Linked DNA regions of Homo sapiens. The protein of the gene in region 2 purifies or fractionates together with the protein of the main gene of each other region. This does not show direct contact. Each region holds a gene or a part of one and is shown on either strand. Other genes may lie near its edges.

Region 1 (3,814 bases), on a different chromosome or scaffold from region 2:
CCTTTACTCCAGGAGCACATGTCCTTCCGCAGGAGAAGGTTGTTCAGGGTGATGGCCCCTATGATGTAGAACATCTGCTTGACCACCTGCTTGATCAGTTCAGGGTCCATGCCATGCTGACACATGACCGAGTGGAAGGAGTTGAGCTGCCGGAGGATGGAGTCCAGTGTGTAGGTGCCCTCATCGGCGATACTGGAGGTTCGCTTTCTCAACCCTGTGGGCTTCACCCCAGACACGCCCTGAATCGTTTCATGTTCCAGCATGCCTGAGACTGCAGGAGTATTTCAATTGTTAGAGGAGATGATGTGGAAGGGAACCTTTCATGTGCACATATCCATGTGCACAAACACATGCACATTCAACTTAGGAAAATTAGCTGGGCACGGTGGCTCACATCTGTAATCCCAGCACTTTGGGAGGCCGCCGAGGTGGGTGGATCACTGGAGGCCAGGAGTTCAAGACCAGCCTGGCCAACATAAGGAAACCCCGTCTCTATTGAAAATACAAAAATTAGCCAGGCGTGGTAGCGTGTGCCTGTAATCCCAGCTACTCAGAAGGCTGAGGCAGGACAATCACTTGAACTTGGGAGGCAAAGGCTGCAGTGAGCTGAGACCACATATCTGGGCTCCAGGCTGGGTGACAGAGAGAGACTCCATTTCAAAAAAGAAAAAAATGATCTGGGTGCCAAAATAGAGGGAAAAGGAACTTCACTACAAAAGGGCTTCCGGATTTTAAACTTTACTGAAGGAATAATTCTTAATTGCAAAAATTTACTATGAATCTAAGTAAACTTAATGGTGTCTTTTCTAAAATAAGAAGCGTTAAGAAGCAGTAGCCTTGTGATAGAACAAGTGTGTGTGTCTTGGGTGGGCTTTTGAGAGTGGTAGGTAGCAGTTCGGGTTAAGATAAGCATTCTCCATGTTATCTGAGCCCCAGAGGCAAAAACAGTAAGAAAAGCAGGGCACTGACAACCATCTTGGAGAAAACGTGGGAGAGGGGAGTGGTATGGGTCTGGAGAGCTGGGCCCTTCCTTATTCTGGGTTTCCCACAACAGCAGTGGGCCCTTGGGCTGACCTCCATCTCCCAGAATTCGTCTTCTCACCTGTGGCCCGGCTGCTTCCCTGTTGTGCTCTCTTAGCATTTGGCTTATGCCTCCCTTAGAATGTTTCTGAGATGTCCACTCCCTGACAGCAAGCCCCTTGAGAGCAAAGGCCACGTCTGGTTCATCTTGCTATTTAATTGTGCTAAACACAGATTCCCTAGAACCGGCATGTTTGTTGTTGCTGTTAAATGACTGGGAGATGGGGGTAAGGATTTAGATTGGGGCTTCTTTGAGGCGAACTTCTTATTCAGCCAATAGAAACAGGCAAAGCAATAGAAAAACTGGCTGAAGTTGACCTTGGTATCTGTGTTACCTCCTAAATTTTTGCCAACCTAGGGTGCTTTAATGACGTTTTAAGGGACATCTGAAGAAAACATTGCCATCTCCCATGGCTTCTTCAGCTTTTGATGTCTCAAATAGCTAGTTAACTGTGGCCTATGAAAGCAAAGGGAACACTATGAGCCCACAGAAGGGAAATGAAGAAGTTGTGGAAACATGGAAAATGCATGCATGGGGAAAGAAAGTGTAGCTGGAAGTAGCCTTAAGAGCCTGCTGATAGGCTGGGTGCAGGGGCTCACACCTGTAATCCCAGCACTTTGGGAGGCCGAGGTGAGTGGCTCACAAGGTCAGGAGATTGAGACCATCCTGGCTAACACGGTGAAACCCCGTCTCTACTAAAAATGCAAAAAATTAACTGGGCGTGGTGGCAGGCACCTGTAGTCCCAGCTACACGGGAGGCTGAGGCAGGAGAATGGCGTGAACCCGGGAGGCAGAGCTTGCAGTGAGCTGAGATCGCGCCACTGCACTCCAGCCTGGGCGACAGAGCGAGACTCTGTCTCAAAAAAAAAAAAAAGGGAGCCTGCTGATAATTTGCTGGAAGATAACAATGTTTGGTAACTTAAGACAATTTTTTAAAATTCAATGCATTCAACTGAATTTAAACAGTAAACATTAGGGAAGGAAACCATATACTACTGTTTCAGTCTTGTGGAAACAGTGATTTCGATGTATCCCAGTTAACTATGGCTGGGTTTCTGGGATTCCTCGGCTAATTTTAGCCCTGTATCTTACTACTTTATGCTCCCCAAATGAATACCTGCCCTGAAACATGTGCCACTGGTGGCTACTTATCGATGGGCATGAATGATAGGCAGGCTGCAATGCCCAGTGGGGCCCTGGCCTTACCAATCATTGGCTGAAGGATGTTCTCTAACACCCGCACGAGCTGCTGGTAGATCTGAATGGCCAAGTCACTCAGCACCTGCCGATACTCAGCCAGGTCAAAATTGGTGAGGCAGTGTTCATTCTGGCGAGATGTGTTGTGCTTCATAAAGCCCTAGAGTCATAAGGCAAAGTTAATGATACACATGAAGTAACCTGTCTCTTCAGTTTAACTATCTCCAATTTGATCAGCATCTTCATGCTCTTTTCTGCTCTGTCCAAGGAGCTTCCCCACTAATGCCAGGACTGACATTCTCAAATGCTGATGTGTGTTTGTTTGCTTCCATCATAACCCCCTCCAGTTCTTACTAGCTTTTGAACAATACCTTAACTTGGCAACCTAGCATTTAAGTCTTCCCAATAGCAATGTCAATGAAGCAAATTGGAGGAACTTAACTAAAAAAAAAAAAAAAAAAAAAAAATAGAGTGTTTCACTTCTGAAACAGCAGGTTTACTGTCAAACACTAAATTATCTAAATTATCTCTTAACTTCAGTTCTTTATAGTCCTATTCTTAAAAACTACACCCAAAGGACATATATAATCTTGAAATAGACCGATTTCTACAGAGACTAGTGAATACATACAAAAAGTTCTCTTTACTCTATTTCGTAGTACCCACACCATGGTTTTCAGTCAGAGGTTAGAAGGGAATCTTTGGTGGTATCTGTTAAAATGGAACTGAATGGGCGGCACTTCTTCCAGTCACTTTGCAGTTTAACACGTTGTTTGCCTGATGCTACGTGATAAAGGCAAGTGCTTACTCTGAGGATTCTCCCTACAGCCAAGCATCTGCCTCCTTACCACCTACTTAATGACTGGTCCGAAAGTGGGGACTGATAGGATGCAGTCAACGACCCCTCTGAGGGATTCTGGTCTGTTGGCCCCATCTTCTCAGGGACTAGGCCTTGCTCATCTCTGTGTTTCCCATCATCTGCCTGTCAGTGCTCAGGAAGTGCCGCTGGGCACCTTCTCTGCTGCCCTCCTGGCAAAGGGATGGGAGGCATGGAGGGCAGTTGGCTAGGGTCATGGGCCCTCAGCGGTGCCAGACCCAGGATCCCAGCTCTGCTCCTTGTGGCCAAGAGAACTTGGGTAAATCAATGAGCCCCAGTGAGCCTTGGCTTCCTCATCTGTAAAACTGGACTATAATTCCTACCTCACAGAGATGCTGTAAGAATTAATGATCATAAATAACACCATATACAGTAAGTGCTGTCTGACACATACTAAAGCAGCCCTTAATAGTCATTATTAATATTCTACATAGTTTTGAAATATTTGAAGTCTATCAAACAACTAATGAACATATCCCCACAAACAAAAACAATAGAGTTTTTTTGGACAAATCGAAAGACATGATTTTTGATCACCCTTTTTTTTTTTAGAGTTAAAGGATTTTAAGGTCCTCTTATTGTCCAAGAGTATTAATATTAAAATTTTCTTTTTTTTTTTTAAACTTTAAGTTTTAGGGTACATGTGCACAATGTGCAGG
Region 2 (3,814 bases):
AAAACATCTGTGCCACCACCTTCAGGTCTGACCCAGTCCTGCTCCCTGTACCAACGCCCTGACGGGGAAGCTACTTAGTGGGGGCTTTTGCAGTCAGAGTCTCAGTGTGTGTTTTAAAGAAAGTTCTGGTGCTTCAGGGCTAGACTTGGAGCACCCCCTAGCTTTCCTTTAAGGAACAGGAGCTTGAGTAGGGCGGCCTGCCCCACGCACTTCCAACCCTTCTGGTCTAGGGACCATTCTGGAAATGAAAGGGCTGGATGGGGGAAGCCCCAGGTGAATTTCAGCCAGTTCTGATCTGATCTTACTGAGCTGGTGGACTGAGGCTCTCCTTCAAGAGATCTTTAACCTGAAGAGATAGGTTCAGAACCAGGGGTGCGCTTTTCCCCCCCAGGGAACATGAGGCAATGTCTGGAGACCTTCCTGGTTGTCCCAATTCGGGGGTGGGGTGTGCTACTGGCACCTAGTGGGTAGAGGCCAGAATTACTGCTGCACATCCCACACCGCCCAGGACAGCCCCGCGCAGGGAAGGCTCCAGGTCCAATGCCAACTGTGCCAAGATTGAGAAACCTGGTCTAGCAGAACCCTCAGAGGGTCCCACAGATTTCTGAATTTCCTGGGCTGGCCCGGGCTGGAAAGAAAGCCTGTAGGAAAGGTGTGGGCTGGGATCAAGCCCCAGTATGAACTCCAGGAAGGGAAAAGTGAGGGATGCAGGATATGGTTACCTGGCAACCAGTCCGTATCCACCCATGGCAGCCTCATGACTGCAGAGCAGCCACTCAGATGCCATCCCCTCAGTGAGCGGTCCTGATGGGACCAGGTGCCAAGGCTTTGGCTCTTTGGGGTGTCAGCTTGGAGAGAGGGACCCAGGCATGTTACCCACCTTGGTTTTCGTTCTCCTCCTACCCCAGATCTCTACAAGGACATTGCCCCTAAGCTGGCTCAGGGGAAAGGGGAATTTATTAAATTCTTTTCTTTTGATCATTAAATCCTAGGCACAAGCACCTGGGGCCTGAAGGTCTGGAGCTGGAAGCTGGGGGAAGTGCAGCCACCTCTTCCTTGCAGAGTCAGGCCAGTGAGACCCCCAACCAGGCTACTCCTTCCTCACACAGCCTCTTTCCAAAAGGTCAGAGTGGGACCGGCAGCTAAATCATCAGGAGTGGAGTGGCCCAGGGCTCTGGGTCTTCTGTCTGTCTGGTTCTCTGTCTCCGTGAACTCGGCTCCAATTCTGAACGACTGGGCAGGTTACCTTTCCCAGGACACCTGAATGGTGACACTCTGCACACTCCTTCCTCCCCGCTCCCTCCAGGGTCCCTGGGCTGGGGAGGGCCAGGCCGCACCTGTGCTCTCGATGTAGTAGTGCGTGATGCCCTTCCAGTGCTCCACGAAGGCCTGCAGCAGGTCAATGCTGGGCTCGCGCTGCGGAGGGCAGACACACAACCTCAGTGGGGGCCACAAAGGCCAGGGAGCCCCTGCCCGCATGGGAACAGATATTCTGAGTGTCAGGTTCATGCTAGGCCTCCTCATGAGGAGGCACCCTGCTCCCTGGCTTTCAAAGGGAGGAATAACACATTTCCTCCAGGACACACTGTCATCTTGCCAAGGATCTCCTGACAGGCACTTCTCCCTAGATACCCCTCCCTCCTGGAAATGCTGTTTTCTTGCTGTATGTCACAATCCTGTCCTGTCTCTGTCCTGGAGGTGCTAAGAATGTTGCTGGGGGAAACAGACACAGATTATTTCAACACAGCATGGTTACGCTACAGTAGAGGCACATAGAGGAACACGGGAGCGCAGTCCCCCAAAGAAAAGCAAAATGATACAGATCGAAAATGTGGCAAAGGTCAGGTGCAGTGGCTCACGCCTGTAAGCCCAACAGTTTGTGAGGCAAAGGTGGGCAGACGGCTCGAGTCCAGGAGTTTAAACCAGCCTCGGCAACATGATGAAGCTCTGTCTCTATAAACAATTTAAAAACTAGCAGGACGTGGTGGTGTCTGCCTATAGTCCCAGCTACTTGGGAGGCTGGGGTGCGAGGATCACCTGAGCCCAGGGAGGTCAAGGCTTCAGTGAATTGTGATCGCAGCGCTGCACTCCAGCCTAGGTGACAAGGTGAGACCCTATCTCAAAAAAAAAAAAAAAAAAAAAAAAAAGACAAAGCTTTTCCATTCCTCTCAATCTGAGAGTCTATGAAAATCTGTTCAAGACCACCACAGGCTCTGTTCAGCCGGAAGGGTAGGTAACATTAGCATGATATTAACAATGTGCCTTCCTTATAACATGCTTACATGCTTTCATCTTGTGTCCAAAGCCTGAGCCTGCACAACCCCAACTCCTCAGCCAGTGCTGTTCTCGTTTCCTCCTCTACCGGCTCCTTCTATCAAGCCCTGGAAAATTCTGGTTCTGCTCTGGGCAAGCCCCTAACCTCCCCCTTTTCCATGAGTGCTCTCTCCATCTCTACACCATGGCTGATACTGGCCTTGCACTGAGAACAATCACTTTCCCTGAAAACTTCTCAAAAACAACAACAACAACAACAACAACACCATTCCTTCGCTTTTCTTGCAGAGTAAATGTTTTCAGGAAAAAAAGAATTCTAATCATCCCTCCCCACAGCTGTGCATTTCTGCCTCTAGGTCTTTGCTGGGGCCACTCCTCTGCCCAAGGTGCTCTGTATCCCACTAACTGTCTGGATCGTGAAAGTCCCCAGTGAGGTTCAGTCCCCAGCAGCTCCACCAAGCCCTCTCCAGTGTCCCTGCCTGCCCACACCTCTCTGACCTCACACTTTACTGCACCACAGAACTGAGTAGCCACTCATGAAATCATTTGTTCATTCTAAGTGCCCACTATGTACAAGACACTATGCTAGATGCCACAAGCAACATGAGGATGACTAACACCTAGTCCTCAAGAAATGTGTCATGGAGAAGACGATATAAAACCGCATTGAATAACGAAGCTACAAGGAAGTAGTGTGAGGCCGCAGGAGAGGTGGAAAGTAGTGACCTCTCAGAAAAACAGGGGTAACTTCTAACAGGCTGGAACAGGGAAGGCTTTACCAAGATCACATCTCAACTAAAACTTGAAGAACCAGGTCAATATCAACAAGAGAAGGAAGACAGTCCCTGCAGAAGGAACTCTGCAAAGTGTGCCTGGGGAAGGGGTGGGCTGGCGAGACTTCGGAGTCTCTAATGCCAAGCCAAGAAGTCTCAGTCATTTTTTGCAGGCAGCAGGGAGCAGGTCAATGACAACTTTTTTTTTTTCTTCTGAGACAGAGTCTCAAAAAAAAAAAAAAAGAGTCTCACCGTCACTGAGGCTAGAGTGCAGTGGCACCATCTCAGCTCACTGTAACCTCCGCTTCCTGGGTTCAAGTGATTCTCCTGCCTCCCAAGTTGCTGGGATTACAGACATGTGCCACCACGCCTGGCTGATTTTTGTATTTTTAGTAGAGACGGGGTTTCACCATGTTGGCCAGGCTGGTCTCAAACTCCTGACCTCAAGTGGTCCGCCCACCTGGGCCTCCCAAAGTGCTGGGATTACAGGCATGAGCCACCACACCCGGCCATTGGCACCTTCTGAGCAGTGTTTTCGGAAGACTCATCTGGCAGTTGGCCTTGGGAGAGGAGGTAAAGGCAGGAAGAATATGCTTAGAAGGCCACTGCAACATGGGGAGGGAGGGATGACATTCACAGAACTGGAAACTCCCCTCAGTCCGCAGGGCATCTTGTCTTCTTGCAAAGCTAGTTGGTAGGGGCTGCAACCCTTCTCAAAAGTAGCACCACCCACAGTTATTCCAAATATTCCATCCCTGTGCAGTGAC

Evidence for each region.
Region 1: the proteins of FHIP2B (region 2) and MYO5A purify together in Homo sapiens (affinity purification with mass spectrometry; one large-scale study listed by BioGRID and IntAct). This does not show direct contact.

What each region holds. Positions count from the first base shown.
Region 1 is NC_000015.10:52,319,072-52,322,885, forward strand, and holds part of MYO5A (unconventional myosin-Va), read right to left. Parts: intron 2,439-3,814; coding exon 2,288-2,438; intron 272-2,287; coding exon 1-271. UniProt on the Homo sapiens protein: Processive actin-based motor that can move in large steps approximating the 36-nm pseudo-repeat of the actin filament. Can hydrolyze ATP in the presence of actin, which is essential for its function as a motor protein. Involved in melanosome transport.
Region 2 is NC_000008.11:22,092,042-22,095,855, reverse strand, and holds part of FHIP2B (FHF complex subunit HOOK-interacting protein 2B), read right to left. Parts: intron 1,417-3,814; coding exon 1,338-1,416; intron 1,247-1,337; exon of another isoform or gene 1,003-1,246; intron 1-1,002. UniProt on the Homo sapiens protein: Able to activate MAPK/ERK and TGFB signaling pathways. May regulate the activity of genes involved in intestinal barrier function and immunoprotective inflammation. May play a role in cell proliferation.